Linked DNA regions of Homo sapiens. The protein of the gene in region 1 purifies or fractionates together with the protein of each later gene. This does not show direct contact. Each region holds a gene or a part of one and is shown on either strand. Other genes may lie near its edges.

Evidence for each region. Proteins that work in one complex are often made in the same cells at the same time.
Region 2: the proteins of MYH1 (region 1) and BAZ1B purify together in Homo sapiens (co-immunoprecipitation; one study listed by IntAct). This does not show direct contact.
Region 3: the proteins of MYH1 (region 1) and ACTR3B purify together in Homo sapiens (co-immunoprecipitation; one large-scale study listed by IntAct). This does not show direct contact.

What each region holds. Positions count from the first base shown.
Region 1 is NC_000017.11:10,490,904-10,495,587, reverse strand, and holds the end of MYH1 (myosin-1), read left to right. Parts: intron 1-270; coding exon 271-396; intron 397-486; coding exon 487-657; intron 658-914; coding exon 915-1,019; intron 1,020-1,138; coding exon 1,139-1,234; intron 1,235-3,019; coding exon 3,020-3,172; 3' UTR 3,173-3,281; downstream 3,282-4,684. UniProt on the Homo sapiens protein: Required for normal hearing. It plays a role in cochlear amplification of auditory stimuli, likely through the positive regulation of prestin (SLC26A5) activity and outer hair cell (OHC) electromotility.
Region 2 is NC_000007.14:73,469,346-73,473,833, reverse strand, and holds part of BAZ1B (tyrosine-protein kinase BAZ1B), read left to right. Parts: intron 1-3,350; coding exon 3,351-3,489; intron 3,490-4,183; coding exon 4,184-4,317; intron 4,318-4,488. UniProt on the Homo sapiens protein: Atypical tyrosine-protein kinase that plays a central role in chromatin remodeling and acts as a transcription regulator. Involved in DNA damage response by phosphorylating 'Tyr-142' of histone H2AX (H2AXY142ph).
Region 3 is NC_000007.14:152,846,712-152,851,199, reverse strand, and holds part of ACTR3B (actin-related protein 3B), read right to left. Parts: intron 1-4,488. UniProt on the Homo sapiens protein: Plays a role in the organization of the actin cytoskeleton.

The DNA of each region.
Region 1 (4,684 bases):
GGGTTTCACCGTGTTAGCCAGGATGGTCTTGATCTCCTGATCTCGTAATCCACCCGCCTCGGCCTCCCAAAGTGCTGGGATTACAAGCATGAGCCACCGCGCCCGGCCAGTTGATTGTCTTTTAAACATATGTCAACTCAGATAATTTATGAAACAAGGAGGAATATTAATGAATTCATTTAGTTAATTAGTTTATGGTTCATTAGAACATGAGGTTTCCTAATTTTTCTCTCATGTGCCTAATATTTCTAAATTTCACATTTTAAACAGAACACCAGCCTGATCAACACCAAGAAGAAGCTGGAGACAGACATTTCCCAAATCCAGGGAGAGATGGAAGACATCATCCAGGAAGCCCGCAATGCAGAAGAGAAGGCCAAGAAGGCCATCACTGATGTGAGTGAAGGGTAACACAGTGGTGGTCAAACTTAAATCTTAATGTGCTGTCTTAGCTGTCTTAACCCATTCTGTTTTACTGCTAATTAGGCTGCCATGATGGCTGAGGAGCTGAAGAAGGAACAGGACACCAGCGCCCATCTGGAGCGGATGAAGAAGAACCTGGAACAGACGGTGAAGGACCTGCAGCATCGTCTGGATGAGGCTGAGCAGCTGGCCCTGAAGGGTGGGAAGAAGCAGATCCAGAAACTGGAGGCCAGGGTGGGTCTCCTAATCAGCATGTATTTCTATCTCATTCCAATCCAACACACGATTCTGAATACCTAGCACTGCTAGATGATGTGGGGCATACTGAGATGAGGGAGAGCTATTCCCTCATGCCCAAAAGCTCATAATAAGGAAAACTGAACTAGGGCATTAAAAACTACATATAAAGCAGAGTAGAAGAAGTATGTGGGTCATGTGAAGAAGTAGAAATTCGTCAAATGAATGTCCTTAAAATGTCCATCTTCTTGTAGGTTCGTGAACTTGAAGGTGAAGTTGAAAGTGAACAGAAGCGCAATGTTGAAGCTGTCAAGGGTCTACGCAAACATGAGAGAAAAGTGAAGGAACTCACTTACCAAGTAAGGAAAATGGCCTGTCTAGGTTTTCACTTTAGTCCACATGGGATTAAAAGTCATATGTATGACAAAATGTAATATTTGTACTTTCAAGAAACTTACTCTTGAAAACATTATTTCAGACTGAGGAAGACCGCAAGAATATTCTCAGGCTCCAGGACCTGGTGGACAAACTGCAAGCAAAGGTGAAATCCTACAAGAGACAAGCTGAAGAAGCGGTGAGTTCACAACCCCTTGGGGTGATTTTTCTCAGACATGACCAGGCCAGTTTAGTTAAAGTGACAAAAGAAAAGATGAGTAAAATGAGGAAGGATCAAAAGAAAACAAATGGCTACATGGAGGTCCAAGGCTGAGGTAAAACCAACCACCTGACAAGCCAGCAGAAGATGTTCTAGAGATGGGGAAGAGCAAATGCAAAGCTTTTGAGTGGGAAAGAGTCTGGCTCAAGAAGCAGACAAAAAAAGGAGGAAAGCACCACAACTGGGACTGGAGAGCCAGGCAGGAGGCAGCTCATAGGGTCTTCCAGGCCATGGTAAGAACAATAAGGTACTGGGAAGCCAGGGAGGGTTTTAATGTGGGTCAGTCACTACCTGATCTATATTTTTTAAAAAGAGCATTTGGGATACTATGTAAAGAATCGGTTACTGGGTAACACAAGTGGGTGCAGAGAGACATGTTAGGAAGCTTTTCAGGTCGGTTCTGTGGCTTGGATAAGAGAGTGGAGCAGAGAGAAGTGGAGAAATTCAGGACATATTTTGGAGGTAGAAACTACAAGATTGCTAATAGGTTGCACTTGGGAGATGAAAGAAAGGCAATTAAGAGTAATTTATCAAGTTTATGGTTTGAGTAACCAAGTGGATGATGTAACACTTAAGTGGGGAACAAAGGGAAGAACAGAATTGCAGGGCAAGAAAGAAACAGGAATTCTGTTTTAGATACATAATACCATATATACACAAGTGAACATGTCAAGTAAATAGTTAAATATAAGATTCTGAAACTCAGAAGGTCTTGGTTATGTTCAAATCAGTAGATTCTTAACACTCCACTTTATCTCATTTCCGTATCCCATGATTCATCTGGATTAATAATCAAATAGTTTCAACTTCCTACATATAAATATTCATAGTTACATATCACAAATGAGTTCCTCTGTTCATTGATGGTTTTTATTTTACCCCTGACATCTAAGGTAAGAGAGAGAGAAAGATGGGAATGGAGGGGAATGAGGGAGGGAGAGAAAACAAACACACTTGTGTGCACGGACACACACACACGCTACTGTCCATACCTCGGACAAATTGCTTAATCTTTCTCCAGTTCCTACTTTCCTCATCTGTAAGAGGAAAAGCTGAGGTTTTTTCTCAAGCTATACTATTTAATGATTCTAAGCTTTATGTCTGTTCTAAATTTGAATGCCACATTTTGGAGGTTCTTACTGAGACTTTTAAATAAGAATGATTACCAGAGACTAAACTAGAACTGACCTGCTCAAATTCTCTGCTATATATTTAAGTATAATCAGAGACAGCTCAGACTATTTTAGGAAACAAACTTCTTGCTTAATTTCTAAACTTAAGTGGCAATAATTTATACTCACATGGCAATAACTTATATTCAAGCTTAATGGTTTGGTTTGGTATAGATTGCATACTTGCACTCTTAAAAGGTTTGGTTCCATTCTCAGGATTCTGAAAAAAACAAACAAACAAACAAAAAAAAAAACAAAGCTGGACACCTGGCATATTTAGTAGTAGCTCTAGGATGTTCTGCTGTTCTAAAAGTTCAGATACAAAGGTCACCTGTCCTTCCTTGTTATCTATGAGTTCAAGAAGCTAATGCAAAAATAAAAAAAAATAAAAATTCAAGAGCATTTCTCTAGGTTTCTTAAAATATCTGCTAGAGTGAATCATTTTTAAGTAAAAAGGAAATTCAAGATCCACTGACCTAAGAATGGAAAAATTCTGAACTTTCTTCCCTCATAAATGGATTTCCATTCACAGGAGGAACAATCCAACGTCAACCTCTCCAAATTCCGCAGGATCCAGCACGAGCTGGAGGAGGCCGAGGAACGGGCTGACATTGCTGAGTCCCAGGTCAACAAGCTGAGGGTGAAGAGCAGGGAGGTTCACACAAAAATCATAAGTGAAGAGTAATTTATCTAACTGCTGAAAGGTGACCAAAGAAATGCACAAAATGTGAAAATCTTTGTCACTCCATTTTGTACTTATGACTTTTGGAGATAAAAAATTTATCTGCCAAAAACTTGTGAGTCTCTTTTTCCCCTCTATGTCAATTTGTCTTTAGAAGTACTGAGAAAAGAAAAACATCTCAACATTTTGGTTACATTTTACAGAAAAGTGCTTAGTCACCAATATTAAGACATGATAGAGAGCAGCTAGGCAGACCCGGTAAGTGCCACCATATGCGTCCCTATAGGAAGTAGGTGAACCTAAAGGTATACCACAAGCCATAAAACATAGAATATTTGGTAAACCTTACTTGACAAAACATAGCTAGTTTCTGTCAATGAAATTATTGATTTTCTTCATAAAATGATAGGAAATCCTTCATCCTAAGGCTGAGTAAAAATAAATTAAAACATGTTATTTACATAAAATGAGAAAAATTTAAAAATTAGATTAAAGTACTGTCAAAAATATTTAAAATGCAAACTCTTCACTATAACTATATGAACCATTTAATTGGGATTAGAATCCCTTGAGAGGGAAGCATGTTCTGTAGGTTTTCTGGCCCTTTGTAAATACAAGAGATTTTTAGTTTTTTGTTATCTACAGATGTTTAGTTTGCTGGATTGTGCCCCCTCCTTGGTTATCACAATCAAATGGTAACCAAGAGTTAAAAATTGTTAAGAAATATGTTTCTATTATGTCTTCTATCTCTTTGGCTACTTCTGTATTTTACAAGGATTTCTTCCTTGTAAGTATATTGATAGCAATAGGTCACTTCATATTTTTTAAAGTCACTACCCTACTCTCATTACTTTATATTTAGATGTCTGTATTGTGCCTTTCTACAGTGCTATGGCAATTATTGTCATCATTGTTGTAACCATGGTATTACTACTACAGGTTTACCTGTACTGAGGGTAGCATGGGCCTTCCACCTATGTCAATTTTTCATACAACATGAGCAAGTAAAATAGCAAGTATCTCATCCATTAAAGACATAACAAAGGTCTTGGAGAATAGTAACCAGTCTACTTAAAAGGAACAATATACAATTAAATGTTTCTAATCTTATGATCCAGTAGGTTAAAATATCCAGTCATACATCTCTGGACCTCAGTTCCTGGGGAAGATTCTCTCTGGGTCATTATGCACCTCCACTTATTTTCTATTGATTACTGGAAACAACTCGCTATTGTAATGCTATATCTTGGGTTGGACTTTAAAATAATTTTAATAGACTTTAATATCCAGTTTTCTCCCAAAGTTTATATCCTAATATTCGAATTACACATTGCCATTTCCTTTGGTTATTCACAATGAGAAAAACGATAAATAAATGGGCATATGTTAAGCAAAGAGTCAGGAAAAGATGGAAGGATCTGATTATGGTAGCAAATCTTAGCTGTACCCTCACTTAATATTGACCCTCCTGGAAAACATGAGATCTCTTATGCTCTTTGGAATATTCCCCTCAAC
Region 2 (4,488 bases), on another chromosome or scaffold:
TGTCAGCACGCCTGGCTAATCTTTTTATTATTTGTGGAGGCTGGTATTGAACCCCTAAACTCAAGCAATCTTCCTGCTTCAGCCTCCTAAAGTGCTGGGATTACAGGCCTGAGCCACCAAACCCCGGCTTGAATAGTTCTTTCATTAGAAAATGTATATTCCTTTTAAAACAAATTTTAGTTTACACTACTTAAGGCCATTGAAATATTTTTGCATATGTATGCATACTGTGCCTGAGTATACATATGTAATGTGTACTTTCCATTTTATTTATTTTTTTGGATACAGAGCGTCGCTCTGTCGCTCAGGCTGGAGTGCAATGGTGCGATCTGGCTCACTGCAACCTCCACCTCCCAGGTTCAAGCTATTCTCGTGCCTCAGCCTCCTGAGTAGCTGGGATAACAAGGCATCTGCTACCACACTCAGCTAATTTTTGTATTTTTAGTAGAGATGGGGATTCACCATGTTGGTTAGGCTGGTCCCAAAACTCTGACCTCAAATGAACTGCCTGCCTCAACTTGCCAAATTGCTGGGATTAAAGGCATGAGCCACCGCCCCTGGCCATTGTATTAACATTTTAAAGACATATGAACAGGCCAGGCTCGGTGGCTCACAGCCTGTAATCCTACACTTCGGGAGGCTGAGGCAGGCAGATCACGAGGTCAGGAGATCAAGACCATTCTGGCCAACACGGTGAAACCCTGTCTCTACTAAAAATACAAAAATTAGCCTGGCATGGTGGCGCATGCCTGTAATCCCAGCTACTCAGGATGCTGAGGCAGGAGAATTGCTTGAACCAGGGAGTCTGAGGTTGCAGTGAGCCAAGATCGGCCACCGTACTCCAGCCTGGGGGACAGAGCGAGACTCTTGTCTTTTTTAAAAAAAAAAAAAGATCAGCTGGGTGTGGTGGTGCCTGTAATTCCAGCTACTCGGCCTATAATTCCAGCTACTCGGGAAGCTGAGACAGGATAATCGCTTGAACCAGGGAGTTGGAGGTTGCAGAGAGCCGAGATCACACCACTGCACTCCAGCCTGATGATAGAGCGAGACTCCATCTCAAAATAAATAAATAAATAAATAAATAAATAAATTAGCTGGCTGTGGTGGCACACGCCTGTAATCCCAGCTACTTGGGAGGCTGCGGCAGGAGAATCGCTTGAACCTGGGAGGCAGAGGTTGCAGTGAGCCGAGATCATGCCGTTGCACTCCAGACTGGGTGACAGGGTGAGACTCCGTCTCAAAACAAAACAATACCTATCAAGAAAGTATAACTGCGGCCGGGCGCAGTGGCTCAACACCTACAATCCCAGCACTTGGGGAGGCTGAGGTGGGCGGATCACCTGAGGTTGGGAGTTCAAGACCAGCCTGACCAACATGAAGAAACCTTGTCTCTACTAAAAATACAAAATTAGCCGGGCGTGGTGACACATGCCTGTAATCCCAGCTACTCGGTAGACTGAGGCAGGAGAATCACTTGAACCCGGCAGGCGGAGGTTGCGGTGAGGCGAGATCATACCATTGCACTCCAGCCTGGACAACACGAGAGAAACTCTGTCTCAAAAAAAAGAAAAAAAAAAAAAGTATAACTGTGTTCCAGATGAAGCAGAATGTAGGTTAAAACCTTCAGCTCTATTTTATCTGAAACGTAATAATTTCTTCTTGCATTTTTGGACTGCTCCACTGTGTTTTATATTTATCTTAAGAGAAGGAAAAGAAGATGATACTCTGTTATTTGTATGGAAACAAGAGACAGAATATTAGTGTTTTACCAAGATCAGTATTTGGATTAGAGTTCAGGTCTTTGGATAACTAGTTCAGTGCTGTAACCTCTGAGACAGAATTTGGTCTTCCTTTGGTGACTTGTCCTAAGTTGGTTTATGTTTGTTTGTAGTCTTGGGAGACTGAACTTTTCCTTGATTGTAATTGGGCCATCACTCACTCTCTCGCTTTTTTTTTTTTTTAATCATTTACCTTTGTGCTATTTTCTACTATAACCATTGTTACAAATACACAGTTTCACTTGGGCTAGAAAACTGTTTATCAAAGGTAACAAATTCCATGTTTTAAATAAATGGAATTTATCTTAAGTTTTTAAAGTAACATCTTTAGACAGATGCATTTTCCAGATTTACATCTTATTGTAGATGTTATTGTCAATAGACAATCAGGGTTAAAAATTATTGGGGCTGAGTGCAGTGGCTCACATCTCTAATCCCAGCATTTTGAGAGGCCGAGGCAGGAGGATCGCTTGAGCCCAGAAGTTTGAGACCAGCTTGGGCAAACATAGTAAGACCCTATCTCTAAAAAAATAATAAACACTTCTTAAAAATTGTGACATTGTAAATAGCATTGCCATGTACCCTATGGTGTCAAGGTTTGTGACAATTATGGAAAAACTTAACAAAATTAGCGGGCTGCTTTTGTTGAGGGAAATTTCTAACTGAATAAACCTAATTAATGAATGATCAGAAATAAAATTTTTATCATTAACAGTAACTTGCAGAATAATTAGAAAAATAGGTGTTCAATGTAAAATAATTATTATCCACAAGTGCGTCCCTGCTGTTGCTTTTCAGGTTTGTTTTCTTGTCATCAGGGCTATTAAGCCAAATTACTGTCAGATTCCTCAGGACTGAAATATGTTTTATTTTGAAATAGTTATTTTACTAGTTTGATTTATCGTGATCTTTTTGAGGATCCTGTAGGTGCACCTGTCAGAAGATGTTTCAGTTAGTCCTATTTATGGACTGTTAACTGTTTCTTCAGGATTGTTTAAAATATATTAAGAAGTGATATTTTGGCTGGGTGTGGTGGCTCACGCCTATAATCCCAGCACTTTGAGGGGCCGAGACGGGTGGATCAGTTGAGGTCAGGAGTTCGAGACCAGCCTGGACAACATGGGGAAACCCCGTCTCTACTAAAAATGTAAAAATTAGCTGGACACGGTGGTGTGTGCCTGTAGTCCAGCGACACAGGAGGCTGAGGCGGGAGAATTGCTTGAACCCAGGAGGCAGAGGTTGCAGTGAGCCGAGATCGCACCACTGCACTCCACCCTGGGTGACAGAGCAAGACTCTGCCTCAAAACAAAAACAAAAAGAAGTGATATTTTGGAGATAAAAGATTTTGCATTGAGTTGAGGGATGAGATGTCACCACAAATTCAAGGAGTGTAGGAGGACTAGATGTTGCTGCCTTACATGTAATTTCTTGTAACAGATTAGAATTAGAGAAAGCAAACTAAGATTTGATAACTACTGTATACTAGGCACTTTTTACTCCATATTTTATTTAATTTGTAAGAGTGGGATTTACTAGGAAAATATCTGATTTGAGTCTTTTTATTTTTAACAGTGAAACTGGAACGCCAAGCTGAAGAAGAACGAATACGGAAGCACAAAGCAGCTGCTGAGAAAGCTTTCCAGGAAGGGATTGCCAAGGCCAAACTAGTCATGCGCAGGACTCCTATTGGCACAGATCGAAACCATAATAGGTCAGTTCCTAAACCAAATTTTTGTTTTCTTTAGGACTATTTACATTGCTATTAGTTAGGAAAATTTTCTAAAGTACAAGAATAGACAAGCTTCTCTCTTCAGTTTTCCAATTCTTTTTGGAAACAGAATTGTTGATGATTATTGAATATTAACTGCCAAATGCTAGAGTTGCAAAGTTAAGTAAGACATATTCCTGCCCTTGCATATACCACAAGTAGGAAGCTTACATGATGGTGATAGGTGAAATGTAATCCAAGTCTTTAAAAATGGCAGTAGGTTTTAAATACATACATTTTGTGAAACCTAAAGGAGAAATATTAGTAGTTACACAAATTAGGGCTGGGCGTGGTGGTTCACACCTGTAATCCTACACTTTGGGAGGCTGAGTCGAGAGGATTGCTTGAGGCCAGGAGTTCAAGACCAGCCCGGCCAACATAGCGAGACCCCATTTCAATTTAAAAAAGAAAGAAATTATACAAATTACGAACATTAAGCTAGTCTCCAGTTTCAACATTTCTCGTATACTTTGATTTACCTTGCAATTTTTATCTGTCTAGAGTTCTGAAGAGGAAGAATTCTGTAAACTGTGGTTTTGAATGCTCAGTGATACTCTGTATTATCTTCTCCAGCAGTAAAATCATCCTGCAATCCTGATCTATTCACTGTCTTATTAATACTGGTTGTGATTTGTAGATACTGGCTCTTCTCAGATGAAGTTCCAGGATTATTCATTGAAAAAGGCTGGGTACATGACAGCATTGACTACCGATTCAACCATCACTGCAAAGACCACACAGTCTCTGGTGATGAGGATTACTGTCCTCGCAGTGAGTATATCTGTATATCTAAGAGTTATTTCACCCTGCTCAAGTGGGCTCAACATTAAGGACTGCTTTTCCTCTGTCACGTTTTCCATTTGCAGAATTTCTTTATTGTGGTCTTAGATCTATTTGAGTGAAGTAGGTAGATGTGAAATGTGTAGAAAGAAGGAGAGAAAC
Region 3 (4,488 bases), on another chromosome or scaffold:
ACTTTAGTAGTTACTGCTGTTCAGAAGTCTCTTACTGTGCCTAATTTCTAAATTAAACTTTATCATAGGTATGTATGTACAAGAAAAAACACAGTATATATAGGATTCGGTACTATTTGCAGTTTCAGGCACCCACTGGAGGTCTTGAATCATATCCTCACTGACAAGGGGGACTAGTGTATCTCCTGATTGAACTTTCTTAGAGAAAACACCTTATGTGAAAACTACATAAGGAAATTAATCCTTCAAGGAGTCAAAAAGCCCTATTTCCTTTAAGACCCTCTAAATATGTTAGCTCTTCCCGAGTTCCTGAGCAACTACAGAGCTCTCTGCTTTCAGGCACTCCTCCCAGTCAGCTCTGAGTGTGTGAACAGTGAGTCCCTCAACAAGTTTACAGGTAAGCAGAAGTCACAGGGAATCAGCACGGAAAAAAAAATGCACTTTTCTGTCCCTAGCAACCCAGGTTCTAAGTTATATGATATGAGAGTAGTCTGTTCCTGCTTACTGCTGTTCTGGGGAAAGACAGCCAGGACTGACTACAAAGGGATCATTTTTCTCTCATGCCAGCTCCTAGAACTGCTGTGACAGCACCCACGTGGACTCAGGATTAGAGATGGTGAAGTCAGAGCAGGAAGAATGAAACGGGGCAGAAGCCACAGGAAGCCACCAGTGATCCGGCCTTCCATTTGGGGAAGCCACAGTGATCTGGCCTTCTACCTGGAGAAGTGACCAGTGATCTGGCCTTCTACCTGGAGAAGCCACCAGTGATCTGGCCTCCTACCTGGAGAAGCCACCAGTGATCTGAACTTCTACCTGGAGAAGCCACCAGTGATCTGGCCTTCCACCTGGAGAAGCTGGCCTTCCACCTGGAGAAGTGACCAGTGATCTGGCCTTCTACCTGGAGAAGCCACCAGTGATCTGAACTTCTACCTGGAGAAGCCACCAGTGATCTGAACTTCTATCTGGAGAAGCCACCAGTGATCTGAACTTCTACCTGGAGAAGCCACCAGTGATCTGGTCTTCCACCTGGAGAAGCTGGCCTTCCACCTGGAGAAGTGACCAGAGATCTGGCCTTCTACCTGGAGAAGTGACCAGTGATCTGACCTTCTACCTGGAGAAGCCACCAGTGATCTGACCTTCTACCTGGAGAAGCTGGCCTTCCACCTGGAGAAGCGACCAGTGATCTGGCCTTCCACCTGAAGAAGCTGGCCTTCCACCTGGAGAAGTGACCAGTGATCTGGCCTTCCACCTGGGAGTGCCACCAGTGACCTGGTCTTCCACCTGGAGAAGCCACCAGGGATCTGGCCTTTCACCTGGAGAAGCCACCAGTGACCTCGTCTTCCACCTGGGATCTGCTCCAATTCTACCGAGTGTCTGTATAGAGAAATTTCACCTCTGATTACCTGCCAGCAGCAGATGTTAGATAAATCATGTAACATGCTGTAGCTGCTCCAGTTGCTAAGGTGAAAGACTGTCAGGGGCTAAAGAAGCCATGTCCAACCCTTTCACTGCAACAAGTGTTTTGCTTATCCACAGTGGTGAATACCAAAAACATTATGCACAGGACCTTTTTATTAGCTTGTCAACTGTCATTAGTGCTAGTGTATTTTATGTGTGGCCCAAGAGTTTCTGGCCCAGGGACACCAAAAGGTTGGACACCCCTGGGCTAAACCTTCTACAGTGGCTTGGCCAGGGACAGAGCCTCACAAAACTGTGCCACAATATTTTGTTATCAGCTTCAAGGTCAAGGCTAATATATTGTTAAGGGAGGATCTGGGCTTGGCCTTCAGGGCTGGGAACCAGGGCGGTTCTGAGGCCACCCTTCAGGGCTCTCTGCAGCAGTGAAGCGATCCTCCGGAACCCCCACCCCACCCCGTTCCTTGGTGTCGGCCCCACACTTCTACTCACAGGGAACAGCCCTGAGCATAGCAGACCCCCTAAAGGGTACCCATGCCTTACGGGGACTATCTGATCATGAACACACTGAATAAAATACCTGGCAATGGTCTTCTGCCCTGAGAACTCTGCAGTCTGTCCTCATCTGGGGGTTTCACTGCTATGTACTTGTTTGCTTTCTCAAAACTCTGTCGGCGTGGCCAACCAAGGAAACCGCTGTCACGTCCATTTCTCGAGAGGCAGCCCCCTGACGCCCCTCGCCACAGGGAGACCATGAGGTCACTGGGCACCTGCCTTCTTGACCCATTTTAAGTCTAGTTTTCAAGCCAACATCCTGCCCCAGGATCAGCATCATGAATAATCACTGTTGTCCTCTGTGACCCTGTGGAGAAATCTCTCATGACCAACCTGAGAGCGCCTGGCTCCTGTCAGAGTCTAGGGACCATCAACCACAGCTGCAGCTACGGGGGGGTGGCAGCTGGAAATCACGTAAACAGGGTTATATTCTGATCCCTGGCTTCCTTCAGATGGGTCTTGTGGCCTGGTGACTCTTTCAGACACACTGCATACCTAGTTACCATAATATCAAGAATCATAACTTAAAAGCATGTTGGTATTTTGATCATCTCATCTTAGAATAAGCCTCAACTGACCCCTGGTCCTGCTCTCTCATGATTGGCCACGCTGGCCGATGATATTCTGGAGAGACAGACCCTGGCTTATATCCAATTAAGAATTAAGTGAGGACTGGGGAAGAACAAGGATGGGTCAGTGCTTGGAATTAGACATTTCTAAGGGCGCTTTTGCTGAGGTTTTGGGGTTTGTTTTTTTGTTCTTTTGCTATTGTTTTTCATTTGCTTTTTTAAAGCCCACCACAGACAACTCCTTTAAAACTTTTCCAGGCTAAGATTCCTCCAGCCTCGCTCTCTGGCAGGGAATGCTGCAGCCTTGGTCTCCTAACAGCCCATATGTCAGGGGATCCCAAACAGTGCCCCAAGGAAGCCTGGGGTGTCTGAGAGCTGTCCCTTGGCCCACCGCAGTGTAGGAGAGGGGCCACAGGGCCAGGTTCCCTGACTGTCACCCCAGACTTGGTGAGCTCATCCTTCCCAAGACGACTGTCGAAGACGCGGGTCTGCTTCTTACTGTAACACCCAATGGCCAACACAGCACCGTGGGCACACCTGCTGCCTCATCTCCACGTTCTGAGCTATTGTTATTCTGAAGGATAATCTGAGAGGTACATAGTCCATTCACACCTCTAAGTCTCCTAAATTCTATCACTGGATCCAAAAGTCCCAGGGGAGTGCTCCCTGTCTGCTCAGCATTCCTTCAGTATTCACTCACAAGACTGTTCACCCTCTGAACTTGCACCGCGAGCCATTAGAAGACACGGCGGGAAGAAACGCGCATCATTATCCACTGTAGGGATGGGTGAAGGAGGTATTCCTAGTGAGGGTCTAAAGAAGAAATTTCTCTCAGGTCTCAGTGTCAGAAAAAGCTGGGCCTCTTCGGAAAACCCACTGGCCTTAATCATATGTCCCAGGGGCCCTGTGTCTGCTGAGCAGCTCAGAGCCACGAGGGGCCTCTCCCACAGCTAGGTGCGACCACAGAACTGTGTGCACGGGCTCTGTCCTCATCTGACCCTGCTGCGCTCTTCTGCCGCCCTGACTTCTCCTCACCCAGATTCCTTCAGCTACTTCATCCGTGTATATTGGATATACTTTCCTGCCTGTTTCAAATTTTCCACACTAAAAGGCAAGCAGGCAGGAGGGGGCAGGGGTGTGGGTTTCTAAGGACAGACAAATAGGAGAGCTGAAGCCCAGCTGCCTGATCTTCAGGCAAAATACAGTTAATTGTTCAACGAGTTTATGAAAGGATGCTGGGTTCTCATTTTGAATTCCTTTCTTCCTTCAGTAATTGAAGGACAAACTTCAACAGCCTAAACATCCCTGTGATGGGCAGCAAACATCCCACTGCATTCAGCAGGCAGTTGCTGTGTTAAAGACACTGAGCTACAGACGCGAAGAAAACATCACGGTGAGCCCTGCGGAGCGGACTGCAGCCCCGGGCACTAGAGCTCACTGCAGACTACAGCCCGGACACTGGGGCTCACTACAGACTACAGCCCGGGCACTAGAGCTCACTACAGACTGCAGCCCCGGGCACTAGAGCTCACTACAGACTACAGCCCGGACACTGGGGCTCACTGCAGACTACAGCCCGGACACTGGGGCTCACTGCAGACTACAGCCCGGGCACTAGAGCTCACTGCAGACTACAGCCCGGGCACTAGAGCTCACTGCAGACTGCAGCCCGGACACTGGGGCTCACTGCAGACTACAGCCCAGGCACTAGAGCTCACTACAGACTACAGCCCGGGCACTAGAGCTCACTGCAGACTACAGCCCGGGCGCTGGGGCTCACTACAGACTGCAGCCCAGGCACTAGAGCTCACTGCAGACTACAGCCCAGACACTGGGGCTCACTGCAGACTACAGCCCAGGCACTAGAGCTCACTACAGACTACAGCCCCGGGCACTAGAGCTCACTGCAGACTACAGCCCCGGGCGCTAGAACTCACTGCAGACTACA